Linked DNA regions of Homo sapiens: regions 1 and 3 are each reported to be linked to region 2. Evidence: microRNA targets listed by miRTarBase, many of them from high-throughput screens and not tested one by one. Region 2 holds a microRNA gene; each other region holds the end of a gene's coding sequence.
Evidence for each region. Region 2 holds the annotated microRNA hsa-miR-1909-5p (UGAGUGCCGGUGCCUGCCCUG, at 6,651-6,671, shown strand). A microRNA usually pairs through its seed, bases 2 to 8, with sites in the 3' UTR of a target mRNA and lowers its output. Matches are read on the target gene's strand: a 7mer-m8 pairs with bases 2 to 8, a 7mer-A1 pairs with bases 2 to 7 and ends in A, and an 8mer does both.

Region 1 (11,031 bases), not on the chromosome of region 2:
CTAGCTCTGTCCACGGACGGGCCTGGAAGCAGTGAGCACCCCTGGAGCAACAGGCAGCCCTGGTGCACAGGCAGCGTTTTCCCAATGCCATGTCCACACTAGCGTCCACCCGAACCACCGCCAGAGAGGCTCTCCAAATGAAAACGAGGTTCGTTCAGGAGTCGGGCATTGCGTGCAAATACGTATGCTGGAGTCCGCTGTGCGTTTTCAGGGAGGTAAAAGCACAGAGGCTTTAATGGCAAAGTGAAGAGAATCACAGAATTGTTTTGGGATATTTATCCTTGCCACAGGAATCGAGAACACGGGTGGTAACAGTCTGAGGTTGGGCAGGTGTCCTCACAGAAGTGTTTTTTGTGTGAGGTTGTGATGGACTTTGCTCACGATTGTGGTGTTTGCTGTCTTCTGTGATGGTTTTATGGGGAATACCGTCAGGGCTGTTCCCAGCTCTATTGGTTGGGGTTTTGTTTTGTTTTGTTTAAGACAAGTGTCTCCATTTTGATTCTGACAGCTTTCACACTGGAAAGCAGGGACTGAGGAAAGTGAGGGGGGCAGCAGGGCCCAGCCAGGGGATCCTGCCAGAGGCAAGGACGTCACTAAGGACTGTGCAGGTTCTAGCAAAATGACAAGGGGCCGGGCGTGGTGGCTCACTCCTGTAATCCCAGCATTTTGGGAGGCCAAGGCGGGTGGGTCACCTGAGGTCAGGAGTTTGAGACCAGCCTAGCCAATATGTTGAAATTCCATCTCTACTAAAAAAAAAAAAAAAAAAAAAATACAAAAAGTAGCCGGGTGTGGTGGCAGGTACCTGTAATCCCAGCTACTTGGGAGGCTGAGGCAGGAGAATCACTTGAACTCAGGAGGTGGAGGTTGCAGTGAGCCGAGATCGCGCCACTGCACTCCAGCCTGGGCGAGAGAGTGAGACTCGGTCTCAAAACAAACCAACAAAAAAGGACATGGAAGTGCAGAAGGGCCCCCCGCTGGCTGGATCCGGGGTGGTGTGTGAAGAGAATGCTATCTCCTCGTCTCCACCTCCCCGGCCCCCACTCTTGCCACGGCCCCCCTGCACAGCCTTCCCCAAGGCTCCCTGACCCACTCCTCGGCCCAGTTTCTATGCCGGGGGCCTGGCCCTTGGCCCCTGACACGAACTGGGCTCTGGAATGAGTCCTTCCACCCCACACACCCACTGCAGCAGGCTCTTCCCTAGACAACGTGAACGGGTGGGGACAGAATGAAGTGCAGGGAAGGCCTCGTGCAGGTGCCCCACGGGGGGACTGAGACTGAGCGGCCACCTGCACACCCCGAGTCCTGGGCACCTTGCGCCTGCTGTTTCCACACCCACTTCAGCAAAGCACGAAGCAGAGGTCTGCTCCACGGGCCTCCCGGGGTTTCAGAGGACCCCTGCACGGTGCCCTGTATGCAGTGGAGCCAAATAAATGTAAACCTTCAAGGCACTAGGCGCATGGGTGAATGTAGGATGCAGGGGCTCAGGAGGCTGTGAGATGTTCCCCAAACACTCCAGATCATTCTTGCTCCGCAAACCAAGCGCTGTTGTGCCAGTGTAAGACTTGAGGGCTGTAGGCTGCCTGAGCCCTCCCCATGCCTTCCCCCGAGAGCACGCCACCCAGCGCCGGGGGTGTGCCTGCTCCTCTGGGCTTCAGCTGGGAACCCCGAGGCCTTCGCCTCAGGGCATAGCTGCCAGGAGGCAATGGAACGAGGCTGAGGGTGCTGGTGGGGACCATGCTGTCATTCAGTTGAGGTCAAGGCACTGCTCAGAGTGGATGCCCAGTTCCATGGAGGGACCTGCCCAGGCCTGGAGCTCTGGAAACCAGGGGGGCCGATGCACAGCCAGGAGCACGTGAGGAGCCACTGTATGGGAGATGCTGCCCTCTCCTAGGGGCTGAACCATGTCCCTCCCACAAAATTCATCTGCTGAAGTCCTAGCCCCAGGTCCTCAGTGTGATCTTATTTGGAGGTAGCATCTTTGTAAAGGTAACTAAATTAAAATGAGGGTCGCTAGGGTCTTATATTAGGCCCTAGCCCAATACAAGAAGAGGAAATGTGGACAGAGACACATAGAGGGATGATGATGGGAAGAGTGGGGGAAAGATGACCGCCAAAGAGCCAGGGAGCGTGGTGCCAGAAGGAGCCCGCCCTGGGGACATGGCTCTGACGTCAGCCCCCAGGACTGTGGGAGGACACACTTCTGCTGTTGAAGCGCCAGGTCTCTGCTGCTTTTTGACACAGCCCTGGCCGGCTCAGGTGCCTTCTCTGCTGCATTCTCTGCTCAGGCTACGGGACCCCTTCCTGGAAGATCCCGGGGCTGACAGACTTTCTCGATGGTGAGAGAGGGGACAGGAGAGGGTCCCTGGACCCAAGTAGCATGATCAGGATGAGGGAGGTCTGATTCTGAAGATGGTACCCAGCATGGGACCATCTGGGATCCTGCTTTTATTAAGTTCTTATATTTCTAAATAACTTGGCTTTTATAGAGTTACCTGCTGAATTGATTCATGTATAATACAGATTTATTTTTTATCTTACTACTTGTTCACAATGTCTTTCCCACTTCACGCTTTGCTCTTCACCTCGCCGCCTCTGTACTAAAGCGTGCCTTGCTGTCCGACCTGCGGCTGCTTGGCACCATCATTTTTTTTTTTTTTTAGACAGAATCTGGCTCTGTCTGCCAGGCTGGAGTGCAGTGGCGTGATCTCGGCTCGCTGCAACCTCTGCCTCCCGGGTTCAAGCGATTCTCCTGCCTCAGCCTCCCGAGTAGCTGGGATTACAGGTGCCCGCCACCACGCCTAGCTAATTTTTGTATTTTTAATAGAGACGTGGTTTCACCATGTTGGCCAGGCTGGTCTCAATCTCCTGACCTCGTGATCCGCCCACCTTGGCCTCCCAGAGCGCTGGGATTACAGGTGTGAGCCACTGAGCCCAGCCGGCATCACTTTATTCGAAGCCTTATCACCGGCCCGTAATCACGCTTCTTTAAATCGCATGCAACGTGTTTTCAGACCAGTCGGGTGGTCTTTTAACGAGGAGTGCAGCCCGCATCCGATTCCCGCTCTGCGGGTTCCTGGTCCTCCCCATTCTTCCTCCTGTGGCTCTTTTGCAGTTGCCTGGGTTTGCAGCTGGCTCAGGCTTCTCTCCCGGTTTCCACCGAGGGCTCGCTCCTGCTCAGGGTCCCCGCGTGGTCCCGGTGTTCCGATGCCACCAGGCGGCGCTGTTCCCTTGCATCCTCAACATCAGATTCCCAGTCCTGCAGGACAGGAACCGGAACGCCACCCTCCACCAGGGACTGGGTGCACCTTCTCCCCACCGCGCCTGAGCCCCCGGGGGCTTCTGGCCACTTACACCCCCAGGCCTAGGAGGTCAGCCGTGGGATGCCTCTCTATCGCATGCTCCTGATTCCACACTCAAACCTCACTTTCCGGTGGCTCTCACGTCGCCTTGAATGTCTCACGGAGGTGAGTAGCCCTCCTTCCTCTTCCTCCTGCCGGCTCTGTGCTAAGTCCATGCTCGTCTGCTCAGAGGAGGGTCCGGAGGTCATCTTCCCTTCATCCTTGCCAACCTGGACATGTCTTTCTTTCTCTGTGACCCATGCATTCTATCTGCAGAGGCAGTGAGAGAGTGGCTGAGAACACAGACCCATCCCAAAGCCAGGTTTTCTGGTTTCCTTTTTTTTTTTTTTTTTTTTTTTTTCTTGAGACGGAGTCTCGCTCTGTCGCCCAGGCTGGAGGGCAGTGGCGCCATCTCGCCTCACTGCAAGCTCTGCCTCCTGGGTTCACACTGTTCTCCTGCCTCAGCCTCCCAAGTAGCTGGGACTACAGGCGCCCGCCACCACGCCCGGCTAATTTTTTGTATTTTTTTTTAGTAGAGACGGGGTTTCACTGTGTTAGCCAGGATGGTCTTGATCTCCTGACCTCGTGATCAGCCCGCCTTGGCCTCCCAACGTGCTGGGATTACAGGCGTGAGCCACCGCACCTGGCCCGGTTTTCTGGTTTCTAACCCTGGTTGTGTGATGGTGCATAAGTCACTTGACCTGTCTGTGCTTGTGAGATGGAGATAATTCTAATATGTTTCTCCTTAAGGAGAGGAAACAAATTAAACAAGCTCAGACAACACTGAAGCTGTGCCTGGATAGGGAAAACTGTCCATGGGCATCGGCTATTATTATATCACTGATTATTATTATTATCCATGCTGGGGTATAGAGTGTCAGGGCAGAGCCCTTTCCTCTGAATGCTTTGTAAACATCAGTCCGTCTTCTTTTATTTATTTATTTATTTATTTTGGAGACAGGGTCTCACTATGTTGCCCAGGCTGGAGTGCAGTGGCACAATCTCGGCTCACTGCAACCTCTGCCTCATGGTTTCAAGTGATTCTCCTGCCTCAGCCTCCCGAGTGTAGGTGGGATTACAGGTGCCTGCCACCATGCCCGGCTAATTTTTTGTATTTTATATTTTTTAGTAGAGATGGGGTTTCTCCATGTTAGCCAGGCTGGTCTCGAACTCCTGACCTCAAGTGATCTGCCCACCTCAGCCTCCCAAAATGTAGGGATTACAGGCGTGAGCCATCGCGCCCGGCCTTTCTTCTATTATATTTTATTTCCCTATTATTTGCATATGGGGCTACTGGATCTGTTCTCAAAATCTCTTTTCCCTCATAACTTCCTCGAGGCAGTATTTTTGCTTTACGTTTCAGGTAATTCCTCTATTTGTTCCTCCCCACATGAATTCAGAACTCAGAGACACGAGCCTCTCCTCTGATTCAACTCGTAAATGGGTTTTTCCTTTACAAATAATGATTTCTAGTTGTAGAACTTGTTCATGCTGCTGTTGAACGTATCCATCTGTCTGTCCATCGTCGTGTTTTAAGAGGCAGCCCCTCTCCCCGAGACCAGTCCCCTGGGGACCCACTCCTCAGGGTCTCAGCTGTGGCCACACGGCCCGCTGCCCAGGTGCAGTTTCTGGAGGGGCTGTGGCTCTTCACGGCACCTTGTTCTTCTCAGCTGCCAGGAATATTAAAAGCCAATCCTCGGAGCTTACATATAGCCCTAGTGGGTTATATCCCAGAACCAAAGGAACTTGAGGAAACAACTGGAGCTGTTTGCAGTGATTGCACTGTGGGTAGCGGACTAGCACTGGGCTGTGAGACTGTCGTGTGTGCTTTGGATCAAGCAGGCACAGTTGTGTGACTTTCTACTTTGTCCTTCCCCTCCTTTGCCCTGAAATCTGGGATTCTCTGCACAGGAGAAGGTCATTCTGGTTTGGAATTGGAAGTAGCAACAGGAACCCTCTGTGTTTTTTATTTTTGTTTTTGTTTTTGAGATAGAGTCTTGGTCTGTCACCCAGGCTGTAGTCCAATGGTGTGATCTCAGCTCACTGCAACCTCCACCTTCTGGGTTCAAGCCATTCTCCTGCCTCAGCCACCAGAGTAGCCTGCCACCTTGCCCAGCTATTTTTTTTTTTTTTTTTTTTTTTTTGCATTTTTAGTAGAGACAGGGTTTCACCATATTGGCCAGGCTGGTCTTGAACTCCTGACCTCAGGTGATCCACCGGCCTCGGCCTCCCAAAATGCTGGGATTACAGGTGTGAGCCACCACGCCTGGCCTTGTGTTTTCCCTTTAAAAACAATTGGATATCTAGCTCTGTCCACGGACGGGCCTGGAAGCAGTGAGCACCCCTGGAGCAACAGGCAGCCCTGGTGCACAGGCAGCGTTTTCCCAATGCCATGTCCACACTAGCGTCCACCCGAACCACCGCCAGAGAGGCTCTCCAAATGAAAACGAGGTTCGTTCAGGAGTCGGGCATTGCGTGCAAATACGTATGCTGGAGTCCGCTGTGCGTTTTCAGGGAGGTAAAAGCACAGAGGCTTTAATGGCAAAGTGAAGAGAATCACAGAATTGTTTTGGGATATTTATCCTTGCCACAGGAATCGAGAACACGGGTGGTAACAGTCTGAGGTTGGGCAGGTGTCCTCACAGAAGTGTTTTTTGTGTGAGGTTGTGATGGACTTTGCTCACGATTGTGGTGTTTGCTGTCTTCTGTGATGGTTTTATGGGGAATACCGTCAGGGCTGTTCCCAGCTCTATTGGTTGGGGTTTTGTTTTGTTTTGTTTAAGACAAGTGTCTCCATTTTGATTCTGACAGCTTTCACACTGGAAAGCAGGGACTGAGGAAAGTGAGGGGGGCAGCAGGGCCCAGCCAGGGGATCCTGCCAGAGGCAAGGACGTCACTAAGGACTGTGCAGGTTCTAGCAAAATGACAAGGGGCCGGGCGTGGTGGCTCACTCCTGTAATCCCAGCATTTTGGGAGGCCAAGGCGGGTGGGTCACCTGAGGTCAGGAGTTTGAGACCAGCCTAGCCAATATGTTGAAATTCCATCTCTACTAAAAAAAAAAAAAAAAAAATACAAAAAGTAGCCGGGTGTGGTGGCAGGTACCTGTAATCCCAGCTACTTGGGAGGCTGAGGCAGGAGAATCACTTGAACTCAGGAGGTGGAGGTTGCAGTGAGCCGAGATCGCGCCACTGCACTCCAGCCTGGGCGAGAGAGTGAGACTCGGTCTCAAAACAAACCAACAAAAAAGGACATGGAAGTGCAGAAGGGCCCCCCGCTGGCTGGATCCGGGGTGGTGTGTGAAGAGAATGCTATCTCCTCGTCTCCACCTCCCCGGCCCCCACTCTTGCCACGGCCCCCCTGCACAGCCTTCCCCAAGGCTCCCTGACCCACTCCTCGGCCCAGTTTCTATGCCGGGGGCCTGGCCCTTGGCCCCTGACACGAACTGGGCTCTGGAATGAGTCCTTCCACCCCACACACCCACTGCAGCAGGCTCTTCCCTAGACAGCGTGAACGGGTGGGGACAGAATGAAGTGCAGGGAAGGCCTCGTGCAGGTGCCCCACGGGGGGACTGAGACTGAGCGGCCACCTGCACACCCCGAGTCCTGGGCACCTTGCGCCTGCTGTTTCCACACCCACTTCAGCAAAGCACGAAGCAGAGGTCTGCTCCACGGGCCTCCCGGGATTTCAGAGGACCCCTGCACGGTGCCCTGTATGCAGTGGAGCCAAATAAATGTAAACTTACAAGTCACTAGGCGCATGGGTGAATGTAGGATGCAGGGGCTCAGGAGGCTGTGAGATGTTCCCCAAACACTCCAGATCATTCTTGCTCCGCAAACCAAGCGCTGTTGTGCCAGTGTAAGACTTGAGGGCTGTAGGCTGCCTGAGCCCTCCCCATGCCTTCCCCCGAGAGCACGCCACCCAGCGCCGGGGGTGTGCCTGCTCCTCTGGGCTTCAGCTGGGAACCCCGAGGCCTTCGCCTCAGGGCATAGCTGCCAGGAGGCAATGGAACGAGGCTGAGGGTGCTGGTGGGGACCATGCTGTCATTCAGTTGAGGTCAAGGCACTGCTCAGAGTGGATGCCCAGTTCCATGGAGGGACCTGCCCAGGCCTGGAGCTCTGGAAACCAGGGGGGCCGATGGCACAGCCAGGAGCATGTGAGGAGCCACTGTATGGGAGATGCTGCCCTCTCCTAGGGGCTGAACCATGTCCCTCCCACAAAATTCATCTGCTGAAGTCCTAGCCCCAGGTCCTCAGTGTGATCTTATTTGGAGGTAGCATCTTTGTAAAGGTAACTAAATTAAAATGAGGGTCGCTAGGGTCTTATATTAGGCCCTAGCCCAATACAAGAAGAGGAAATGTGGACAGAGACACATAGAGGGATGATGATGGGAAGAGTGGGGGAAAGATGACCGCCAAAGAGCCAGGGAGCGTGGTGCCAGAAGGAGCCCGCCCTGGGGACATGGCTCTGACGTCAGCCCCCAGGACTGTGGGAGGACACACTTCTGCTGTTGAAGCGCCAGGTCTCTGCTGCTTTTTGACACAGCCCTGGCCGGCTCAGGTGCCTTCTCTGCTGCATTCTCTGCTCAGGCTACGGGACCCCTTCCTGGAAGATCCCGGGGCTGACAGACTTTCTCGATGGTGAGAGAGGGGACAGGAGAGGGTCCCTGGACCCAAGTAGCATGATCAGGATGAGGGAGGTCCCAGGAATATCCACGCCCATGGAGCCAGGCCCCCCTGGAAGCCTGTGAGCCTGAGTGTGGTCCCCCCGATCATGCCATGAGGCCCCAGGCTCTGGCCAGCTCTCCCGCCCTTGAGCTCTTGACCCTACCTTGGGGTCACCTCCTGCCCACCCCCATCCTCCCATTCAGTGCCCCTCCTTCTCTACACTCCAGGACACATGAGCTTCAGCTGCAGGATCCGGAGCTCAGCTCCTACAGATGCTCACACCCTTGGCCCACCTCAGTTTCCCATCTGAAGTCAGTTCAAGGCCTGGTGGTCTGGGAAAAGCCAGCTAGTCCACCTGGCCCAGTACAGATAGGCTGGAGTCTCGGGCCTGCAATCCGGACCTGTGGGCAGCAGGATAGCTGCCCGGGATTGCCCTGTGGGGCCCAGGCCACAGCTGCCCTCAGGCAACAAGGGTCAGTCCCCAGCCTTCCCTGGAAAGTGCCTTACACAGATCCTCTCATTCCAGTGCAAAGTGGATCAAAACACTTTAATAAAATGGCAGCGGCTTTGTGGGATGTCTGTGGCAGACAAAATCAAGAGCCAGGAGCCCGGGATGCGGAGATGGGCCTCGGTCTCCACATCCTGGCGGGTGCTGGGGCCGGGGCTAGTACTTGAGCAGCCAGCGTGGCCTGTGGGTGCTCAGCGATGTGAAGTAGGACCACCACCAGGGCTTACTCCCGTCGGCCGAGGGCTGCCTGCGCGCCCGGAGCGGGTCGGGCTCCGTGGCCTCCCCCAAAGAGCTGGCACCTCCCAGTGGGTCGTGGGGCCCAGTCCTCCGCAGCCCATGAATAAAGTTCTTGGGTCCCATCCCCAGAGGTTGCAGAATGAAGTCCACACGGCCAGCCCTCTTCATCCGGGCGGGGATGATGACTTTCTTGATGACTTTGGCGTAGCCAGGGGCTTGGGCAATGACAATGTGGATACCTGGGGGCAGCAGTCTCCAGTAGTCACCATCTGGGGCTGTGGACAAATAGATTAAAAATGATTCTCACGAGGACTGCAGACCCAGCCACGGGGTGATGGGTGATGGATATGAGTGGGGAGAGGTTAGCATGGGAGGCAGGCGCCAAATGTGCACTTGCCTCTGTGTGGGCCTGGAACGTCCTTCCCACCCCTTTTCTCTGTCAAACTCTTATTTATACCTCAAAACCCTGCTTAGGCACCCCTCTTCTCTGAAACCTTCGATGACCACTCCCACCCCCCATACCCACCCCACAGTTAGCAAAAGTCCCCCTCTTCTCTGGACCACATCTCTGCCAGGTAACACATATCACAGCATACCGTCATTTTTCATCGGCTGTGAAATTCCTGTAAGGACAGCCAGAGCCCGCACAGGGCTGGACACCCCAGCTATCAACAGGGTATGAACTTTGGGATAGAAACAAACAGGCTTAGGGGTGGAGGTGGCTCTCCCCGGCAATGTTGGAGGAGGCGGCATTTTCCTAGGAATACAGAGCATGCATCCACCATCATTCAGTAGCTACGGCTGGGCAAGCTCTTCCCTCACCAAATGCTGTAAGGAGACGCAGACCCTGGTTCCTGCCCACCCTCCCCGACCCAGCCAGCCTGGGGAGGAATGGAGCCATCCTGCTGAGGGCTGGGCACACTGTGAGTGCCTGAGGGTGCCGGCTGCCACGGTGTGGCATTTCCTTGGCAGACGTGGTCCCCAGGGGACAGCCAGGGACGTGCTCACCTGTGGTGATGTCGTGGCGAATGCCTTTGACTGAGATCCGGGCGTTTTTGACTGGCTTGCCGAATTTATCTGTCACCACACCTTTGATGCCCCGGTGCACCTGAAGAGACCAAGGGGAGGCCAGGGAGATGGCGTGAGCTCTCCTGCTGAGCGTGGAGGCCGTCAGCTCGTTCCCCACATGCTCCTCAGAGCTTGGTATCTAGGGGGAACTACCCCACAGAGCCCCACTCTGCCAGCCCTCGCTCTGCCATCTTTAACGAGTCAGTCACTCCCCTCTCTGGGCCTCAGTTTCCTCCCTGGCAATTGACCCGAGCACGTTCTGGGCTTTTGAATGACCCTGCATCTCACCCGAGGCCTGGCTGACTCCATCTCTATGGGCATTGAGCAGAGAACCCTTTCCTGCCACTCTTCTGCCTGATCGGCATTCCTTCCCTGCCTTCCCAGCCCCAGCGGGACTCCCTGGGTCCCTCTGAGCTGAGGCTCCTGAAGGTGGCGTGGGCATGGGAGAGGACGAGGACAGTGCTCGGACCCTCGCTCGAGCAGCGCGGTTTCTTCATCGTACACGTGTATAACACGCCCTGCCTTCTTACTGCTTGCCTGGCCTTGGCACGAACTGGTCCTGAACACACAAGCTCCCTGCACGCCCACAGCTCCAACGTTTTCACCCTGGAAAGCCCTCCCAAAGCTGCCTGATCCTGTCCACATTTCTTGTAAAACAGTTGATGACAAACCACCCACACGGCCCCTGCTCTAGTCAGCAGAAAACAACGTGGGGTCCAAGGATGCTGAAGGTCACGCTGAGCAGGACCAGGATGCCTGTGGGGAGAGGAGTCCGTCCAGCGAGGCTGCCCCCTGCCCGGGCCCTGCACGGGGCTCAGCAGCAACAGATTCTCAAGGGAAAGGGCTCCCAGCCAGGCCCTGCTGTGCTTCCAGAAACTATGAAAATGATCTTGCTCCTCTTAAAATCAGGATAAAAGCAAAACATTTTAGGTTGGAGAGACTGTTTTCCTATATATTCATCTTTATGTCGACTGTTGTATAATTTTAAATACTTTATATGGAGGGAGGAGTCCACAGAAGCAAAGAGCCTGGGCCCACAGGGTCAGGAAGCAGCCCTGGCAACAGGAGCATCCTCCTTCCCTGGCCCCGGGACATTAGCCCGAGAGGGGCTGGTTTTTCTCTGGGCCAGAAAATCAGCTCTGCCGTAGTGACTGTTCACTTCAGACAAACCTTTGCTTCTGGGTGCCTCAGTTTCCTCAGCTGTAAAATGTTCATG
Region 2 (9,585 bases):
CGAGGACCACCCTGAGCAGCCTGCTGGTTTGGAGCCCCTGCCTCCCTGGCGCTGGCTGGAGAGCCTTAGGGCCAGCCCCGGCGATTCCCCTGCAGATCCCATGGATCCCACGGCCCTCCTTAGGGAGAGCTCTCCAGGCTACTCTGACCTCCCCTCCCCAGAGCCCCCTCACGGCTGAGACCTTAGCCCCAGGGAGGGGAAATCATTGAGTTGGGCCTATCCCAGGACCCCACACGCTTCCCGTCTGTGTCTCCGCGCTCGGGTTGTCCTGTTGCTGATCTGTGGTGGGTGCTGAGCTGTCGCAGTGCCCTTGGGGCCCGCCGCCTGAAGGGAGTCTGGCGTCCCAAGTGCTGGCAGTGCCGCAGGGCGGGCTCATCTGGCTTGGAGGACTCCTGTGGCTGCCTGGGCTCGCCCCCAGCGTGCAGCCGAGGGAGTCTGGAGGTTCTCTGTCCGTTCCTGAAGAGCAAACCCTCCACTGCAAGAGGCGCGTGCCAGCCTGGCGGGCAGCCTGCTTCCTTGCTGGGCGGCCCGCGGTAGCATGAGCAGACTCATCCTGCCTCCCTTGCACCTTCCAGGGCCAGATGGCATTTCGAGGGATGTTGCTCTGAGACTAGGGCCAGATGTCCCTGCTCACAGCTCCCCTTCCTGGGTCGGTGCCGAGCCCCCAGTCCAGAAGCCCCCCTGCCACACAGACGTACATGCCCAGGTTGCAGCTGCCCGCGTGGCCAGCCCTCCGAAGCAGCCCCTGCAGGCCTGGCCTCCTCCCTCTGGTTTGTGACTTCATCAAAGGGCAAGGCAGAACACAGAGGCCGCAGGGCAGGGCAAAGCCAATGAGCAGGTGGGGGCACCCGAGACCCTTCGGTCCTCTGTCCGGGAGCCAGGGCCTTTCCCTCAGACATCGACGCCTTGGGCTTGGGGTCAGAACACGTGGCAGAGGCCTGGACCACCCCACCGGTGACGTGTCCTCAGCGGCCTCCGCAGCCTGACCTGTGTCCTCTGCCTCGATGGACTTGCCTGAAGGCAGCTAGAGCCTGATGCCATTGCGCAGCCCCAGCCCCTCACCCTGGCCCGGCCCCCTGCACGCGGAGATGCACGTGCTGCTGGCGCTGAGCGGCCGCGGCTGCCTGGTGCTCCGCCACGTGGTGATGGGCAGCCACTCGCCCTGTGCCCACACCCCCTGTGCCCCGCCAGCCCCCACAGGTGCCAAGAGGACCCTTGCGGCCAGCGGCAGCCAGTCCTCCAACGGCCCTGAGCCAGGTGGCCAGCAGCTGAAAACACGCACATTGTCGGGGATGGCGTCCAAGACTACCACCACCATCATCCCTAAGCGAATCGCCCACAGTCCATCCTTACAGGTAGCCCCTCCCATCTCGGCCAGGACCACCACCCCCAAGACCACGCCCTGAGGCCCGGCCACATGGGACCTGCGGAGGGCCAGCCTCGCCCCTGCCCTGCGGGCCTTCGTGCTCCACACCGCAGTACAGCCTTCACCTTCCCTCCCCATGCCTTGGTGTTTTTTTTTTTTTTTTGAGATGGAGTCTCGCTCTGTCGCCCAGGCTGGAGTGCAGTGGCACGATCTTGGCTCACTGCAAGCTCTGCTTCCTGGGTTCACGCCATTCTCTGGCCTCAGCCTCCTGAGTAGCTGGGACTACAGGCGCCCGCCACCACGCCTGGCTGTTTTTGTATTTTTAGTAGAAACGGGGTTTCACCATGTTAGCCAGGATGGTCTCGATCTTCTGACCTCGTGATCCACCCGCCTCGGCCTCCCAAAGTGCTGGGATTACAGGCGTGAGCCACCATGCCCGACCGCCCTGGCGGTGTTTTTTTGTTTTGTCTTGTTTTGTTTTTTTGGTTGGTTGGTGTTTTTTTTTTTTGTTTAGAGACAGGGTCTCTGTTGCCCAGGCTAGAGTGCAGGGGCGCAATCATGGCTCACTGCAACCTCGACCTCCTGGGCTCAAGTGATCCTTCCACCTCAGCCTCCTGAGTAGCTGGGACCACAAGCCGGTGTCATCACACCCCAGCTAATAATTTTGTTTTTTATTTTGTAGAGACAGGGTTTTGCCACGTTGTCCAGGCTGATCTTGAACTCTTGTCCTCAAGTGATCCTCCTGCCTCAGCCTCCCAAAGTGCTGGGATTATAGGCGTGAGCCACCACGCTTGGCCTTGTTTTGTTTTTAATTAATAGACTTTATGTTTTTTGAGCAACTTTAGGTTTCTAGGAAAATTGAGCAGAAAGTACAGCAAGTTCCCTTGTGCCCCCATGGCCTCAGTTTCCCATGACCTTAGTTCCGCTGCCCTCAGTTTCCCCTGCTGCTCCTGTCTTGCCTTGGCGTGTCTGTCCCTACTGCAGCCAGGCTGATCTGTCCCAGCGCACCTCACTCTTGCCTCCAGCCATGGGCACGGCCTCATCGCGTCTGCGTTCCCCGCTGGAGGCCTTGTGGAGGCCCTCACCCATGGCAGCTTTTGCCTTCCCTCTAGAGTTTAAAGAAACCCATTATCCCCAAAGAGTTTGGGGGCAAAGTCCCCACCGTCATCCGCCAGCGCTATCTCAACCTGTTCATCGAGGAGTGTCTCAAGTTCTGTACCTCCAACCAGGAGGCCATAGAGAAGGTGAGGTCCTGGAGTTCCTATCTGGCCGGTCGGGTGGGGACTAGGGGTCCAGGGTGGTCCCCAGACATCCCCCGGCCTCTCAGCCGCAGCTGTGACCCGGAGCTGCCTGGGAGAGATGCAAGTCCCCGACCCCATGGCGACCCCACCGCTGGGGCTCCCCGGCACCAGGCAGGCATGGCCTCAGCTGGGCACCGCCTGTCCCCCAGGCACTGAACGAGGAGAAGGTGGCCTATGACCGCAGCCCCAGCAAGAACATCTACCTGAATGTGGCCGTGAACACCCTCAAGAAGCTCAGGGGCCTGGCCCCCAGCGCTGTGCCCGGCCTCAGCAGTGAGTCCTGGCGGGTGGGCGGGGGAGGCTCAGGGTTGCTCTTGGGGTGGCAGCTGGGCTGGGACCCTCGCTGGGACCTTCACAGCCCTGAGCTCAGCCACAGTCTCAGACAAAAGGAAAGCGCGGTGCTGTGGGGGGGCTGCCTGCTGCCTGGTTCCCAGGCTTCTGTGTAGGACGGACCTGGCCCTGGTGTCCTCGCTGTCAGCCGCCTTCCTCCGCTGAGTGGGGTCTCCAAGCCGAGCCGAGGGGCCGCCTGCTAATGGAGCTGCGGCAGCTTCTTCAAAGCAGGAGGCCCAGGGCTGGGCGAGCTCCATGCATTAAGCTCTGGGGAGGAAGAAAGCGGAGACCTGGGCGTTTCATTGCAGCCTCTCCAGGCTGCATTAAGCTATCACCGGCCCCTGCCCCCGTCCCCGCCTGCATTAGCACTCGGAGGGGCCCTGGGTTGGCGTCGCAGGCTGGGTGGCCCATGAAGGCTCAAAGCCCTCGAAAGCCATTAGATCCCCCGTGCTGTTCTCCCCGCCCTTCCCCCTTCGCTTGAGGGGAGGGGACGAAGACTTTGGGTGTGGGGCCTCCGTGCAGCTCTGGGGCCTGCAGAGCTGGCGGCTGCCCTGCGTCCCTGGCTCACCGCATGTCTGCCTCTCCTGTTCGGGTCAGGCTGGAACCCGGGGTCAGTGGGGTGCTGTCCCAGAAAGGGGGAGTTGAGGCAGAGGTCTGAGGAGGGCAGGGTGGGTGGGAGAGCAGGCGGGGCAGGGGTCTGAGCCAGCTACTTCACACCCTCCTCCCCTCCCTCCCTTCCTTCCAGAAACCAGTGGCCGCAGGGTTGTGTCCCACGAGGTGGTGTTGGGGGGCAGGTTGGCCGCCAAGACCAGCTTCTCGCTCAGCCGTCCAAGCAGCCCCCGGGTGGAGGACCTGAAAGGTAAGGCCCTGCCCCTGCTCTGCCACACGGTGCTTCGTGGGCCTCTGCCGGCCCAGCCCCTGCTGTGCCACACGGTGCTTCGTGGGCCCCTGCCGGCCCAGCCGCCTTTCCCGGTGGTGTCTACCGCCCCGTGGGCCATCCCAGGCAGGGGCTGACCACTGTGCCTGTCCACAGGGGCTGCCCTGTACAGCCGCCTCAGGGAGTACCTGCTCACCCAGGACCAGCTCAAGGAGAACGGCTACCCCTTCCCGCACCCAGAGCGGCCCGGGGGCGCAATCATCTTCACAGCTGAGGAGAAGAGGCCCAAGGACTGTGAGTCGCTGGCCTGCGACGGCCTAGGTGGGCAGGTGCGGGATGTGGGCAAGGCCGGGCATGCGGGCCCCAGCGTGAGCCTCAGCTTCCACCTGGGTCCCCACCCACAGCTTCCTGCAGGACCTGCTGCCGCTGTGGCACCGAGTACCTCGTGTCCTCTTCAGGCCGCTGCATCCGGGACGAGGAGTGTTATTACCACTGGGGACGGCTGCGCCGGAACCGGGGTAAGGCCTTACCCGGGTCCTTCCCCTTCCCACCCATGGCCCCCGGAACCTGGGCCCTCCCTTGAGGCCCCCAGAACTGGGGTAAGGCTTTACCCAGGCCCTCCATCCCACTCAGGGTCCCTGGGCTGCACCGTCTTTGGCAGAGCCGGGGCTAGCCCTTGGCCTCATTTTCTCTCCACCTGTTCTTTATGCAAAAGTAAGACAAGAGCTTTCCCATGACAAGGTTCAAATGCCACCACCTGAAAGGCCCTGTGTCCCTGCCTTCCTGTGCCCTTGGTCCATGGAAATGTGGAGGTTGCTGGCCCCAGGAGCGGAGGGGCTTGTCCCACCCTTGGCCTGGTGGTTCTATTCAATCCCCCAGGCAACCACGCAGCCACGCTCAGGGCACATGGCCAGCCTTGCACAGCCCTGTGGCGGCCCCTAAAGCCATCGCCTCAGGGATACCTGGAGGGTGCTGCCCGGGGCAGCGCTGCCAAGAGGCCTCTGCAGAGGGCACTGGTCTCCCTGGATCCAGGCCTGGGCGTCCTGGCTGCCACACGACTGCCGGGGCCTGGTCTGCTTCCAGCTCCACCAAGAGGCTGAGGCCTCCTGTCCTCAGTCCTCACTCCCTAGTAGGGCTCGGTAGATGCAGGTGGTCAGTGCCCCGGGGGCTGTGGAGTGGGCCTGGCCGGGCCCTGACTGTGTGTCTGTGTCCCCTGCAGTGGCCGGAGGCTGGGAGACCCAGTACATGTGCTGCTCGGCTGCCGCCGGCTCTGTCGGCTGCCAAGTCGCAAAGGTGAGCCCTGGCGTCCCAGTCCCCTCTGCCTGTTCTCAACAGACTTCTGCCTCCCCATCGTTGGTGTGGGGTCTCGGGACACAGCACAGTCCTGGGCTCAGGGTCTGGGCCCCCGGGCAGCCTTTCTTGTGTTACCCAGAGAACGTAGCACCCGTAGGCCCCAGGCCCTGTCCCTGGCCACTTCCCATCCTGGGAAGCCGTCCTCCCTGTGTCTTCTTGGCAAGCCCCCTTCCCCACCTGCTCACCAGGGTCCCAACCAGTGAATGGGCGTGATGGATGGATAGGATGGTCCCGAAGGGCTCAGAGATGTGCTGCTGCTGCCACCCCCGCCCCCACTGCACCCCGAAGCTGCCCTCACCTGCCTTCTCCACCCCCAGCAACACGTGCAGGATGGCCGGAAGGAGCGCCTTGAGGGCTTCGTGAAGACCTTTGAGAAAGAGCTCTCAGGAGACACCCACCCGGGGATCTACGCCCTGGACTGCGAGATGGTGAGGCTGTTCTCTGCCCAGCGTCGGGTTCAGGATTGGGGAGGACCTGGCCTGGTGCGGCCGCCCCATCTGGCCCCATCTGGGCCTGGCTCACCGGCCAGCGCTCAGGGTTTCTCTCGCAGCACCGGTGCCTGTGGCTCCTGCCCTGGACCAACACCCCATACTTCCCAGCAGAGCCAAGCACACCGGGCACTGGGCCCCGGCTCTGCCTCTGAATGGGAGGCAGGAGGGCTTTGCGAAAGGGGGTTACTGAGGTCACACCCCACTCGGCCTCTCCTAGAAGTCCCACAGAGTCTCTGGTCACTGCCTCTGCCTGGAGGGGCTCTGGAGACTCAAAGGGGCAGGGAAGGGGAGGGAGGGAGGCCGGTGCCTGGGACACATCTGAGGTGCATCCCTTGCCCGCAGTCCTACACCACATATGGCCTGGAGCTGACGCGCGTCACGGTGGTCGACACGGACGTGCACGTGGTTTATGACACCTTCGTGAAGCCTGACAACGAGATCGTGGACTACAACACCAGGTGTGGCCAGTGCCCTCCACGAGCTGGGAGCCCTCCCAGCCGCCTCTCCCCAGGGACCCACCCTCCCCCGCCCCACCAGCCAGTGCTTCCAGGCTGAGCCCTGGTGCCCCTCCTGCCCGTTCCCCCAGGTTTTCGGGGGTGACGGAGGCTGACCTTGCCGACACAAGTGTCACGCTGCGTGACGTCCAGGCCGTTCTGCTGAGCATGTTCAGCGCTGACACCATCCTCATCGGACACAGCCTGGAGAGCGACCTCCTGGCCCTGAAGGTGCCCTGCCGGCCCGGGTCCCGCGCGGTTCTCCAGCAGGACCTGCGCAGGCCCCACGTGCGCTGATCTCTGCCGCTGCCCACAGGTCATCCACAGCACCGTGGTGGACACGTCTGTGCTCTTCCCCCACCGCCTGGGCCTCCCCTACAAGCGGTCCCTGCGGAACCTCATGGCCGACTACCTCAGACAGATCATCCAGGACAATGGTGAGTGCCGGTGCCTGCCCTGGGGCCGTCCCTGCGCAGGGGCCGGGTGCTCACCGCATCTGCCCCGCAGTGGATGGGCACAGCTCCAGCGAGGACGCCGGCGCCTGCATGCACCTGGTGATCTGGAAGGTTCGAGAAGACGCCAAGACCAAGCGATGACGCCTGCCCGCCTCCCACCCGCCTCTCCTGCCGTCCCGCTGGTCCTTAGCCCCATGCCTCTTCCAAAACAGTGCAATAAATCTCCGGTAACCCGTCCACCTGGCCGAGGCAGCCCAGAGCAGCGGGATGAGCTGGCGGCCAGAGAACGCCCAGCCCAGCCCACCCCCGCTCACGTCCTGCCGCACCCCTCCGCCGGTCCCCACCCTCTGCCCCCCAGCCCTCTGGCGTCTCTAGAAACTGCTGCTGATGGAGACCAGGACAGAGCCCGCCCCCACCCGGCCCGCAGCCCCTCCTGCCCCTCCTGCCAGGCCCTCCCTCCCGGGTGGTGGCCGGCACCTCTGCTCCTCACGTGGGTCGCGGGGCGGGCTTGTCCCAGGTTTGTTTGAGACAGTCTTTTTTTATTTTGTATTGTTATTTTTATTATTTTTAATTTAAACCTGATGACTTGCACAGCATCTTTCCCACCGGGAAGAGCGGGCCTGCTGCCTTCCCTCCTGCGGGGTGGGGGTGGGACAGACCCCAGTGGGGGCCAGGGCCACACTCAGCGCAGTGTGGGCTGGACCCGCCTCTGTGCTCCAGGGGCTGGCCGGTCTTCGGGGGCGCCGGCTTCCACCACTCGCCGCCCCACCCCTGCACTCCGTGACCTCTGAGAACCCAGCTGGCCCCTCGTTAGCCCCAGGGTCTGCCGTCTAGAGGGAGCCCACCGGCCTCCGGACACTGTCTTCCCGCTAGAGCCCCGTCCTCCTCTGCGGGGCTCTCCGGACCCCCTTCCCCCTCACCTCCAGGCAGGGACAGAATAAATGTTTGTATGGATTTTAGATTTTGTGGTGGTCTTGGTCTTGGTGCCTGGTGAGGCCTCTGCATGTGCCCCGGGGAGGCCACTGTCCCTGCAGCCGGGACTGATTCTCTTCCCATCAACGCAGAGAAAACAGAGCAGTGAAACTTTCCCTCACAAAAGCTGGCCCAGGGCTGGCTCCCCCAGGGCTGGGCCACACCTGCTGTGGGGTCCCAGTTCCAGCCCCAGATCATGGGCCACCATCCTGCAGCTTCTAGTGCCTCTCGGACAGTGGGTGGTGTCCCCAGCCCTGTGTGGAGCTGGGCCCTGTGCACAGAGCTGGCTTCCCTCTCTGCCCTGCCCAGAGATAGGGACTGCACACAGATGGTGAGAGGGGGTTAAAGAGACTGGGAGCTGCTGTGTGTTGCCCGTCAAAGGATGGAGTGCAGACACGGAAAGCTGCTCCGGCCCTTGCCAGGAAACGCCACACATTGTGTAGTGCACGCACGTCTCGGGCAACTGTGGTTGCATCGGGACCCCATTTGGAAATGGGAGGCCCAGGGGTGTTTAGGCCCCACTTTTTATTGACCTCAAGTAGAAAAAGTGATGAGCCTTGCGGGACAGGACCCAGCAGCTGGGGGCAGGTTGCCTGGAGTGGGTTTCCTGCCACCCTGGTCTTGGGCTTCTGCTGAAGGGCAAGGCCAAGGGCACAGGTCCCGGGATGAGGACGTGGGGGCCCTCCCCAGAGGACTCCATCCCAAGGCTCCCTTCCCGGTTCTGGGCTCTGCATCTCTCCAGGGCCCTCCTGGGGGACCGTGGTTAGGCCAGGCCCTTCCACCCTCGAGGGCTGTTCTTGTGACTAGTGACTCTCCCACCTCTTCTGTAAAGGAGTTGTTTTCTTTTTCTTCTTTATTTTTGAGACACAGTCTCGCTTTGTCACCCAGTCTCAGCTGGCTGCAACCTCTGTCTGCCGAGTAGCTGGGATTATGGCTGTGCCATCACACCTGGCTAATTTCGTATTTTTAGTAGAGATGGGGTTTCACCACGTTGGCCAAGCTGGTCTCGAACTCCTGACCTCAAGTGATCCACCTGCCTCGGCCTCCCAAAGCGTTGGGATTACAGGCATGAGCCACTGTGCCCGGCTCTGTGTTCTAAATAAATGGCGCAGGCGTGTATGCGCTCTGTTTCTGTGCATTCCCATGTGATGTCTGCCTCCCCCTTCCCAGAACGCACCTGGTGCCTCAGGACATAGCCCACGGGGGGTCCCAAGGCTGGCCAGCCCTGGCTTCAGCCCCCAGGGACTCCCTTCAGCTTGTGAAGCCACCTGTTGCCACTGGAGGCTTCAGGGCCTTTGCACAAGTGCCCTGGGCAAGCTCCTGCCCCCAGATAGTGCCCCCTGCGAAGGCTGGGGTGGGGGAATCTGGTCCTCACAGCTGCACCCAACCAGGTCTCTTCTAAAGTTTATTAGAACAGTGTGTTCAAACTCCCAGCCCCGGCTTTTTTTCGTAACCACTGAGCAAGCAAGCAAGCACAGGGGAAGTGTTGAAGGAATGAAAGGAGAGAAGTCAAACACAGTGGCCTGCCTGCCTGCTTGTGGTCCCAGCTACTCTGGAGGCTGAGGCAGGAGGATCGCTTGAGCCCAGGAGGTGGAGGCTGCAGTGAGCTCTGATCGCACCACTGCACTCCAGCCCGGGTGACACAGTGAGACTCTGTCTCCAAAAAAAGAGAGGTTCCCTGGCAGCCTCCAGGGCCAAGCAGGCTTCCAATTTGGGCTTCCAAAGAAAGAGGGTTTGTGATCACCGAGAGCCCTCAGGTGGTTGCCGCTTTGATGGGGGAGGTGGCTTCCCTATCCCCCTCCACCCATGTTTGCCTCTCCCTTTGGGCCCTCACCCCAGGTAGCCTCACTCTTGGGGGCATTTCATCTTCAGCAGCCCCTCCGCACACACTTTCTGACCCTGGCTCCAGGCCCTATCGCTGGCCTGGACCCGCCCTAGCCTCGTCG
Region 3 (11,031 bases), not on the chromosome of region 2:
GTCTCATTTCCCTTGCTTCTCACGGGCTCACTTCCCGCCCTGCCTCACACACACTCTGGCCTGGAGAGGAACGTGTGCCCACACAGAGAGAAGTATGTATATCTCTCCCAAGTAAGTAGGGCATGTATGTGTGCCTGTGTGCAAAAGGATCCATGCATGCCTGCCCTGTGTGTGCTGTGGGAAGAGGGGGTGATTATGGCTGGTGCTGTAGATACAAAGATATCAGCCTTGATCCGTGTTCTCCAGAGAGGGAGAGGAGACAGACACATGAAAATGCTTACCTGGGTGGCATAAGAAGTGTGATAGAGGCCGGGCGCAGTGGCTCACGCCTGTAATCCCAGCACTTTGGGAAGCTGAAGCAGGTGGATCACTTGAGCCCAGAAGTTCCAGACCAGCCTGGGCAACATGGTGACACCCCATCTCTACTAAAAGCACAAAAATTAGCCAGGCATGGTGGCACACACCTGTTAATTGCAGCTACTTGAGAGGCTGAGGCACAAGAATCGCTTGAACCTGGGAGGCAGAGGTTGCAGTGAGCTGAAATCGTGCCACTGCATTCCAGCCTGGGTGACAGAGCAAGACTTGCCCTCAAAAAAAAAAAAAAAAAAAGAAAGTGTGATAGAGAAGCGTGAATGGTGCCGAGACTGTATGGGGGGACTCTCCAGTCCCGCCACTAGGGAGAGGAGAAGACTTCCCAGAGGAGGAAACATTTGTGTTCGATCTGGTAGAACAAATAGGATTTTGTTCCTAGGGGAAGTGGGAAGATGGTATTCTAGTCACAGAGGCACCAAAGGAGCTAGTGAGACATTTGGTGTGTCTGAACTGTGAGGAGAGGGCAAGACGAGACTGCAGAGGACGCCAGGGCCTGGTTCATGTAGGGCCCTCAAGCTTTTGGACTTCTTTTAAGCAGAGGGCAGTGGAGATTCACTGAAGGTTTCCGATAAGGGAGTGAAGAATTGGAAACTCAGGGGAGAAGGGATTGGAAGAGGTGGAGAGGACTCGCTAGTCCAGTCAGGAGGCTAGTGCAGCAGTCAAGAGATGAGAGATGTCACGGATGAAATTCAAGTTTCTGCTAAAAATAGAAGTATCCTTGAGTCAGGAAGGGAACAAGTGGAGGAAGATAAGCATCCTGAAAGAAGGGGAGAATTTTGCATGGCCTTTATCTGGTTTTGATTAGTGGCGAATGTACTAGAAGGTGGGTGGCTGGGCTTGGTTTTGCTAGTCTCCAGTTCCTGTAAGCCTGCTGTCTCAGGCTCTAGCAATTCCCTGCCTCCCCTGGCCTGGGTCAGGATGGGTCTGGGGCTGCTGGGTGACTCACCGCTCCAAGCCTGCTCACTGCTTCTGGGGTGGAACTAGTGTCTTGGAGCAGGGACACCGCCACCCAACCCACATTCATTTCTGTTCCCAGCTGTGCCTGCAGTTTGTGGTGAAGGTGCTGGATGTGGACTTGGTTTGTGAGGCCCTGCAGGTGGGTGCTGCTGGACAGGCATGGTAGGAGTCTGGCTCTGTGTGTGGAAATGGGCTCCCAGCACCTGGGAGCCTGGGCCTGCTGTGTCTGGCCTGGAAATAACTTGGGTACATGGTGGTGGTGGGGGTGCTCCAAGGATGTTTATAGGATGAATTCTGTGCCTAGATCTGTGGGATCCTGGGTGTATCAGCAGGGTCAGGTGCAGGAGCAGGTGTTGAAGGGGCTGGAGGTCTTTGCTGGTCTTCTGTCTGTCAGGGCTGGGGAATGGTTCTCAGCTTGACTTGGGGTAGGGAAAGGGTGGCTGTAGACTTTAGAAGTCAAGCTGGGTCAGGCACAACGGCTCACACCTGTAATTTCAGCACTTTTGGAGGCCGAGGCGGGCGGATCAAGAGGTCAGGAGATCGAGACCATCCTGGCTAACACGGTGAAACCCTGTCTCTATTAAAAATACAGAAAATTAGCCTGGTGTGGTGGCATGCTCCCAGCTACTCTGGAGGCTGAGGCAGGAGAATCGCTTGAACCCGGGAGGCAGAGGTTGCAGTGAGCCGAGATTGCGCCACTGCACACTCCAGCCTGGGCAACAGAGTGAGACTCTGCCTCAAAAAAAATCAAGCCTAGGTCCCAGGTGGGGTTTGAAGGCCATGGCGTGGTCTCCTGTAGGGAAGAGCAGGTTGTAGAGTGAGTCCACGTGTGTGTGTGTGTGTGTGTGTGTGTGTGTGTGTGTGTGTGTGTGTGTGTGTAGCAGGCTTTCATTGGGTCTAGTTTCCTGGAGGGCTGAGGGCCCTGTCAGCCTCCCCAGCTAGGGCTAGGGTCAGGCTTGCAGTGGTGGGTCCCAGTGAGCAGGCTGGGCTACGGCCTCTCCAGTCTCCAACCTGATCTCCCTCATTCTGCTCGCAGGTGGCCGTAACCTTTGGCCTGGGGCAGCTGCAGGAGCGCTGCGTGGCTTTCATAGAGGCCCACAGCCAGGTACTGCTCCCTTCATACTCCTCACCCTACGCACCGCATTCTGCTCCTCCCTGACCCATTTGCCGGCTCGCAGGAGGCCCTCCGGACCCGAGGCTTCCTGGAGCTGTCGGCGGCCGCGCTGCTGCCCCTGCTCCGCAGCGACAAGCTCTGCGTGGACGAGGCTGAACTGGTCCGCGCGGCCCGAAGCTGGGCGCGCGTGGGCGCGGTGAGTGGGGCTGGGGGAGCGCAAGGGCACGGAAGGAGGTGCTGGCCACGAGACTGGTGAGCGGGCGGCAGGACAGGTGCCCGACTCAGGGCTGGCGTTTGCAGGCGGTGCTGGAGCGGCCGGTGGCTGAGGTGGCGGCCCCGGTGGTGAAAGAGCTGAGACTAGCCTTGCTGGCCCCGGCGGAGCTGAGCGCCCTGGAAGAGCAGAACCGGCAGGAACCACTCATCCCGGTGGGGACGCGGGGAACCGGCCCAGCTCCACTCAGCAGGGGGTACAGGGCGCTGGGAGGGGGCAGGAGCAGCCCGGCCCACGGTCCTCGGGGCGAGGGGCCACCGCGGGACTGCGCACTAACTGGCCTTGCTCTGCAGGTGGAGCAGATTGTGGAGGCGTGGAAATGCCATGCCCTGCGGAGAGGGGATGAGGCCCGGGGCGCCCCGTGTCGCCGCCGGAGAGGCACCCTGCCCCGGGAGCATCACCGCTTTCTGGACCTGTCCTTCAAATGATCCAACGCCGGGACTCGCAGGGAGCCCTCGACCCGCCCAGCTGAGCCTGCCCCAAACTACAGCTCCCGAAGTGCTCGGCGTTCGGAGCGGGCTTCCGTTCCCAGCGTGCCCAGTGAGCCGGGCGCCGGAAGAACCGTTGTCTGCCACGCGCAGCCCCTTGTGCGGGATCAAGCCCGTGTGGGCGAGGTGGGGTCGGGCCGGGCAGGGCTTGGGCTGGGCCTCCCTGAGGGGGTGAAACTCGAAAACGAGGATTTCCTTCGTTCCACACCCTGACTCTACGCCCTGCCCCTGGGCATTGTCGTCTACTAGTCTATTCTGATGACTCCCACATATCTATCTGTTCAGCTCAGCTCCCTCTTTCTTTTCTTTTTCTTTCTCTTTCTTTCTTTCTTTCTTTCTTTCTTTCTTTCTTTCTTTCTTTCTTTCTTTCTTTCTTTCTTTTTCTTTCTTTCTCTTTCCTTCCTTCCTTCCTTCCTTCCTTCTTTCTTTCTCTTTCTCTATCTCTTTCTTTCTTTCTTTCTTTCTCTCCTCTCTCTTTTTTTTGAGACGGAGTCTCGCACTCTCGCCCAGGCCGGAGGGCAGTGGTGCCATCTCGGCTCACTGCAAGCTCCGCCTCCCGGGTTCACGCCGTTCTCCTGCCTCAGCCTCCGGAGTAGCTGGTACTACAGGCGCCCATCACCACGCCCGGCTAATTTTTTTGAATTTTTAGTAGAGACGGAGTTTCACCGTATTAGCCAGGATGGTCTCGATCTCCTGACCTTGTGATCCGCCCGCCTCGGCCTTTTTTTTTTTTTTTTTGAGACAGAGTCTTGCTCTGTCGTCGAGGCTGGAGTGTAGTGGTGCGATTTCGGCTCACTTCAAACTCCGCCTCCCGGGTTCAAGCGATTCTCGTGCCTCAGCCTCCTGAGTAGCTGGGATTACAGACATGCACCACAACGCCCGGCTAATTGTTGTATTTTTAGTAGAGACGGGGGTTTCACCATGTTGGCCAGGTTGGTCTCGAACTCCTGACTTCATGTGATCCGCCAGCCTCGGCCTCCCAAAGTGCTGGGATTACAGGTGTGCGCCACCATGCCCGGCCTCAGCTCCTTCTTTCATTCCAGACCTGCCCCCCTGGAGATCGCTCCCTGAATGCCCCTCAGACACCACAGGCTCGGCGAGAAATTGATCTCCCCAGCTTTTCCCCAGCTCTGCCCCCATCGTGTTTCTCATTTCCGTGGACACCCACGCCAGAAACCTGGATCTCATCCTTGCCTTATCGCTCTTCACACCTGCCTTAGGTCTCTTTTTACCTTGTAAGAGACCTTAAGAGACCTTTCCAGTTGGTTCAGTTCTCTCAGCCCCAGGTTCAACCTGTCCTGTCTGACACGTCTCACAGCCTTCCTGCCTTCACTCCAGCGCCCCCTCAATCCATTTCCCACAGTGCAGCCAGACCTGTTTTTGATTGTCAGTCCTATGGGGCTTAAGTCCTGGAACATCCCATTGACCTCCAGGACAAAATTCAATCTATTTCACTTTCAGGGCACTCAAAACTACTAGTGAGTGGTTCCTCACCTCTTCTCTCAAATACAATCTTTGTATAAATTCATTTATCCTGGAGGTATTAGTCCTCTAGCTCCATACCTTACTCAGTTACTGCAGACCCCTCTGCTACCTCCTTCATTCACTATACATCTTGTTTTCCCGAGGATGTGAATCTCCCTCAAGAAAGATCCCTGGGGCCTGGAGTGGTGTCTTACTCGTTTCTGCTTCCTCAGTCTCTGTCAGATAATCAGTGCTATGTAAATGTTAAGTAAATGACTTTATTTATTTATTTATGACACAACCTTATTCTCACCCAGGCTGGAGTGCAGTGGTGCAATCTCGGCTCACTGCAGCCTCAGCCTCCCAGGCTCAAGTGATCTTCCCACTTCAGCCTGCTGAATAGCTGGGACTACAGGCATGTTCCATCACATTCGGCTAACTTTTTTTTTTCTTTTTGTAGAGATGAGGTCTCCCTACGTTGCCCGGGCTGTTCTCAAACTCCTGGGCTCAAGCAATGGTCCCACTCCGTCCTCCCAAAGTGCTGGGATTACAGGCATGAAGCACCACCACACCCAGCCTATTTCCTCATTTAAATGCCACTTTATTCCATGAAGAGTTTTAAAGGAGCTGCAAAGCAAGATACTGTCAATCTAAAATGAGAGACAGTTGACTATTTAGAAGAAAATAAAGTTAGATTTCTATCTCAGGGACTTCATACAAAAATATATTGTACAGGAGGCCAGGCACCGTGGCTCACGCCTGTAATCCTAGAACTTTGCGAGGCCGAGGTGGGTGGTTCGCCTGAGCTCAGGAGTTCGGGATCAGCCTGGGCAACATGGCAAAACCCTGTCTCTAAAATACAAAAAACTAGCCAGGTGTGGTGGCACATGCCCGTAATCCCAGCTACTTGGGAGGCTGAGGCACGAGAATTGCTTGAATCTGGGAGGCGGAGGTTGCAGTGAGCTGAGATTGTGCTACTGCACTCAGCCTAGGCAACAGAGTGAGACTCTGTCTCAAAAAAAAAAAAAAAAATATATATATATATATGTATATATATATATACACACACACACACACACACACACATAGATGTGTGTGTATATTATATATACACATAGATGTGTGTGTATATTATATATACACATAGATGTGTGTGTATATTATATATACACATAGATGTGTGTGTATATTATATATACACATAGATGTGAGTATATTATATATACACATAGATGTGTGTATATTATATATACACATAGATGTGTGTATATATTATATATACACATAGATGTGTGTGTATATATATACACATAGATGTGTGTGTATATTATATATACACATAGATGTGTGTGTATATTATATATACACATAGATGTGTGTGTATATTATATATACACATAGATGTGTGTGTATATTATATATACACATAGATGTGTGTGTATATTATATATACACATAGATGTGTGTGTATATTATATATACACATAGATGTGTGTGTATATTATATATACACATAGATGTGTGTGTATATTATATATACACATAGATGTGTGTGTATATTATATATACACATAGATGTGTGTGTATATTATATATACACATAGATGTGTGTGTATATTATATATACACATAGATGTGTGTGTATATATATTGCACAGGGATTAAAGATAGTTATTTAGCATTATCTCTCGACAGAAAATGTGCTTACTCAGTAGTACATGGCAGCATTGATTGGATAGTGGAAATTGAAAATCATCTATACGTCCATTACCAGAGGACTGGTTATATTAACTATGGTATATTCCTGTAATATTTAAAAAATCCATGATCTTTGGTGAAAAAAGCACAGAATAGACCAATTACAGCATGATTCCTCTTGTTAAAAGAAAAAAGGTAGCATAGTGATTAAGAGCGTGTCTCCTGGAGCCAGAATGCTTGCATTTGAATCCCAGCTCCGCCACATATTTTCTTTGTGATTAACCTTTCTTTGCCTCAGCTTCCTTATTTATAAAATGGAGATAATGGAACCTATTTAGTAGAGTTTTTAGGAAGATGAAAATAATTTCATAAAATACTTAGAATTGTAGTGGGACAGATTAAATTCTGTATATGTGTTTAGAAAACATATTCATTCATTTGTTCCACAACTATTCATTGAGTGCTCACACACTAGACATTGATTTACGGTCATGGAATAAGTACATCAGACAACAAGTCAAGTCAAGTCTTTGCCTCATGGAGCTAACATTCTAAGAGGAGAAACATGCAGTAAACAAGTAAAGAAATGTATGCTCTATTCAGGGAGTAGTTTGTGCTATGAGGAAAAGCAAAACAGGTTGAAGAGATAGCTATGTGGTGGGAGTGGGACTATTTCGTACAGGGCACTGATTGTAGACCTCTGATGAGATAACATTTGACAAGAGATCTGCAGGGAGCTATGTGTCATGGGGGAAGGCATTGGAGGGTTTTGTGCAGGACAGTGATGTGTGATCAGATTTAGTTTAAAAGAATAATTTGGGCTGGGCATGGTGGTTCCTGCCTGTAATCCCAGCACTTTGGGAGGGTGAGGTGGGCGAATCACTTGAATCTGGGAGTTTGATACCAGTTCGGGCAACATGGCGAAATCCCGTCTCTACAAAAAATACAAAAATTAGCCAGTGTGGTGGCACGCGCCTGCAGTCCCAGCTACTTGGGAGGCTGAGGTGGGAGAATTGCTTGGATCTGGGAGGTGGAGGTTGCAGTGAACTCAGATTGCGCCACTGCACTCCAGCCTGAGATTGTGCCACTGCACTCCAGCCACTGCACTCCAGGAAGACCCTCTCAGAAAAAAAAAAAAAAGAATTTGGCCGTTATGTGGAGGACTGGAATTGAGAAGGGCAAGAGCGAGGTAGAAGAGTGGTCTAGGGAGAACAGTTAGGGGCTATTGCAATTATCCAGCAAGAGATCTTGGACCAGGATGGCAGCAGTGGAGGTGGTAAAATGTGGTTGGATGAAGCGTACGCTTTGAAGGTATCAACAGGACCAGCTGATGGAAGGGAGTCAACAGGACTAGCTGATGGCTGTAAACTGGGGGGTCACTAGCTATCAGATGGCATTTACTTAAAGCCATGGAAGTAGGTGAGCTCCCTTATGGAGAGGGAATAGGAAGGAGGTAGACCATTCTATCAAAATGCTCTTTCTACAGGGCACTTCTCACTGAGATATTATTTATCTGGGATTTATATTATTTATTCAATTTGTTTTGTGTTTGGTTCTATTAGAAAAGCTCCATAGGGGCCGGGCACGTTGGCTTTTGCCTGTAATCCCAACACTTTGGAAGGCCGAGGCAGGCGGATTACCTGGGGTCAGGAGTTTGAGACCAGCCTGGCCAACATGGTGAAACTCTGTCTCTACTAAAAACACAAAAATTAGCCGGGCGTGGTGGTGCGCCTGTAATCCCAGATGCTGAGGAGGAGAATCGCTTGAACCCGGGAGGTGGAGGTTGCAGTGAGCCGAGATCGCGCCACTGCACTCCAGCCTGGGCAACAAGAGCGAAACTCCCTCTCAAAAACAAACAAACAAACAAACAAACAAACAAAAAACAAAAAAAAGAAAGAAAGAAAGAAAAGGGCCAGGTGTGGTGGCTCACACCTGTAATCCCAGCACTTTGGGAGGCTGAGGCAGGCGGATCACGAGGTCAGGAGATCGAGACCATCCTCACCAACACGGTGAAACCCCGTCTCTACTAAAAATACAAAAATTAGTCGGGTGTGGTGGCGGGCGCCTGTAGTCCCAGGTACTCCGCAGGCTGAGGCAGGAGAATCGCTTGAACCCGGGAGGCGGAGGTTGTAGTGAGCCGAGATTGAGCCACTGCACTCCAGCCTGGGTGACAAAGTGAGACTCCATCTCAAAAGAAAAAAGCTCCATAGGAGAAGGAACCTTGTCTCTTCACCACATAAACTGTGTTTGGATTCGCAATCGAGTTGGGAAAAAAAAATCAGTCTGGAAGAGCCACACCAAACCGCTAACAGCTACTGTCTCTGGGAATAGAACAAGGAGTTTGGTTGGCGCGATATACCGCCCCTGAACCTCTAGCCACAATAAGGCTTAATTAATGACCGGACGACTTGAAAGCGCCTTCCACTGTTTATCTCTTAAATCTGCAACGAAATGCAACAAAAACGCAAGAAATAAACAATAGAAGCCAGTCTTACTGCACACTGCAGAAGCCAATAAACCCCAAATGTAGCTCAAAACAAGGTGTCACGCAAACTTCTGATTTTTTTTTGTTTTACACTGAATCTCTGTCACTCTGACTAGAGGGCAGTGGCGCGATCTCGGATCACTACAACCTCCGTCTTCTAGAGTCAAGAGACTCTCCCGCCCCAGGAGTCTCTGCCACTCTGACTAGAGGGCAGTGGCGCGATCTCGGATCACTACAACCTCCGTCTTCTAGAGTCAAGAGACTCTCCCGCCCCAGCTTCTCCAATAGGTGGGATTGCAAACAGGCACCACCACGCCCGAATAAGTTTGTGAACATTTGGTACAAATAACAAATGACCAAGTTCCTTGGTTGTAGTTGCCTAACTTTTAATACTTAAAAATGTAGCCTCAGGAAATAAGAGGCCTCAAAAAATTGAATAAAAACTCACAACTTTCTCTCCACGGAAATCTTTAGTAAAAGGCGAAAGATTTATGCGCTTTGAAGAGAAACCCGAGTATATTCGTGACTTCCGCTTCGAACCTCGCAGGGAGAACTAACACTTAACACACTTATGGTTGTTGGATGCCTGCGTGGTACGCACTCCCTATATGTAGTTTATGCACACAGATGCGTGTAAGAGGCATCATGCTCTAAAACAGTGCAGAAATGCGCGCACAGAGGGAGTGCAAGCATCTTGAGGGTATCTTTTCGTGGTGCACCATGGGTATGCAAATCACAGGCGGCTCCGGGCTGTTCCGCGCCACCGGGGAAGCCATGGGTCACTGATCTCCTTTGCTCTCCTATGCTCCTCTCTGCTGGTCCTCCTGGGACCCGCACCCCGTGGGCGGCGCCGGGTGCGGAGTCCTTTGCGGAGCTGGTGTTCGTCCCAGGGGTTAAGGTCCTGTCCCGCCGTCCTTACCCGCAGTAAGCCTCCGGGCTTAGAGAGAGGGACGGGGAAACAGACGGGCACAGACACTCAGGGGCACTGGGACCTCACAGGAGGCACGACCCCACCCCTCCTGGAGGAGATGGCATCCGATCCAATTCACCTCGAAGGGTGATATGGGGTCACATCAAGGGGAGGTGAGAAAGTGTTCTAGGCAGAGGGAATGGCGTATGAGAAATTAGGGACCCGAAGACCAATTCAGCCTGTCCAGACAGTGGCGCTCCGTGTGTCTGATGAGGGGGTGCTGGGGTGGGAGGCAGAGGCTAGATCTCCTCGGGCCTGGAAAGATGAAGATGAGGAGGCTTAGTGAGGCTGGCTAACTTGCCCAGGGTTACTCCGCTGGTAAGTGGCACTGAGGGCTGACCCCCTTTGCACTATTCTGGCCTGGTGAGCTCTCTCTGCTCCACCTAGAAGGCCCTTCTTGGTGACCCAAACACTGCTGGACCCAAATGCAGCCTCCCTCCCTTGGGCCTGCTGGTTGCACCCCCTACTCTAGGTTCTCTGCCAACTACCCGCTTCTCTTGAGCTTTTTAGGCATTTTAGCGTGGATTCAATTGCAATAGGCGTTTTTTGTTGTTGTTGTTTTTGTTGTTGTATCTTTTGGTCAGAACATGATTTCCTGGCCTTTGTCCAGGTGGGGTGGGATGTGAGAACGCATTGTTCCTGGGGTGGGATCATTCCTGGTGAGTGGGTGGTTGGAGCCCAGGGTCTATGTGAACTAGACTATGGGTCCTAAGCTATGGCTGGGAAGGGGCAGTTGCAAACCTCCCCACGCCTCTAGGTGAGGCTCTGTGCTCTATTCCAGGGCTGTGGCCACTCTTCAAGGCCTCTGCTTAGTGGAGCTGTTCAACTTTCACAGAACAAACAACTTACGCTGTGTCCTCACTAACTGCTAGCACCTCAGTTTCTGAGCAGTTCCCGCAACTGATCCACTGGCTGACTGGCCAAAGACACCTCTCGGCTGTCAGGACAACCAACTTACAGAGGCCTTTGCCTTGGAGGTTGCTCTGGAACCTGGCTCCTTTCCCTGGGTCCACAAACCTCCTGAGAAGCTCCCCAGACCCTGTTGACCTCTCTCTGCTTCAACTGGCTGCTTTCCTGATCTGCCTCCACCTCGCCTTCCACCTGCTGCATGGCTTTGCCCCTCTGCCTTGCCGTTTCCCGTGCGGGTGAAGCAGGTAGGTGGAGGTGAGTCTGGAGAGACGGGCAGGCTGGAATATGGTGGCTCTGAAAGCC

Region 1: miRTarBase lists CPZ as a target of hsa-miR-1909-5p. The part of its 3' UTR that is shown has no 7-base or 8-base seed match.
Region 3: miRTarBase lists BTBD19 as a target of hsa-miR-1909-5p. Seed matches in the 3' UTR shown: 8mer at 4,664-4,671.

The regions. Positions count from the first base shown.
Region 1 is chr4:8,617,253-8,628,283 of GRCh38, reverse strand. CPZ (carboxypeptidase Z) reads right to left here. Exons shown (of 11, transcript NM_001014447.3): 10 at 9,756-9,855; 11 at 8,532-9,022. The coding sequence ends at 8,667. It overlaps LOC124900659 (a long non-coding RNA gene), which reads left to right and starts at 3,115. Exons shown (of 3, transcript XR_007058014.1): 1 at 3,115-3,464.
Region 2 is chr19:1,813,289-1,822,873 of GRCh38, reverse strand. MIR1909 (microRNA 1909) reads left to right here and starts at 6,636; the gene lies at 6,636-6,715. REXO1 (RNA exonuclease 1 homolog) reads left to right here. Exons shown (of 16, transcript NM_020695.4): 5 at 1,192-1,355; 6 at 2,479-2,610; 7 at 2,817-2,940; 8 at 3,743-3,856; 9 at 4,031-4,168; 10 at 4,279-4,392; 11 at 5,094-5,167; 12 at 5,545-5,655; 13 at 6,061-6,176; 14 at 6,305-6,443; 15 at 6,529-6,649; 16 at 6,720-7,626. The coding sequence ends at 6,808. LOC100288123 (a long non-coding RNA gene) reads right to left here and starts at 785. Exons shown (of 4, transcript NR_152847.1): 1 at 182-785.
Region 3 is chr1:44,810,631-44,821,661 of GRCh38, forward strand. BTBD19 (BTB domain containing 19) reads left to right here. Exons shown (of 8, transcript NM_001136537.3): 4 at 1,409-1,468; 5 at 2,366-2,434; 6 at 2,508-2,639; 7 at 2,744-2,869; 8 at 3,008-4,955. The coding sequence ends at 3,142. It overlaps LOC107984952 (a long non-coding RNA gene), which reads left to right and starts at 9,849. Exons shown (of 2, transcript XR_001738036.3): 1 at 9,849-9,932; 2 at 10,601-11,031. It also overlaps a transcript of PTCH2 not described here and the pseudogene RNU5E-6P. RefSeq lists silencers at 3,289-3,358, 9,030-9,749 and enhancers at 8,469-9,125, 8,940-9,039, 9,070-9,119, 9,126-9,782, 10,439-11,031.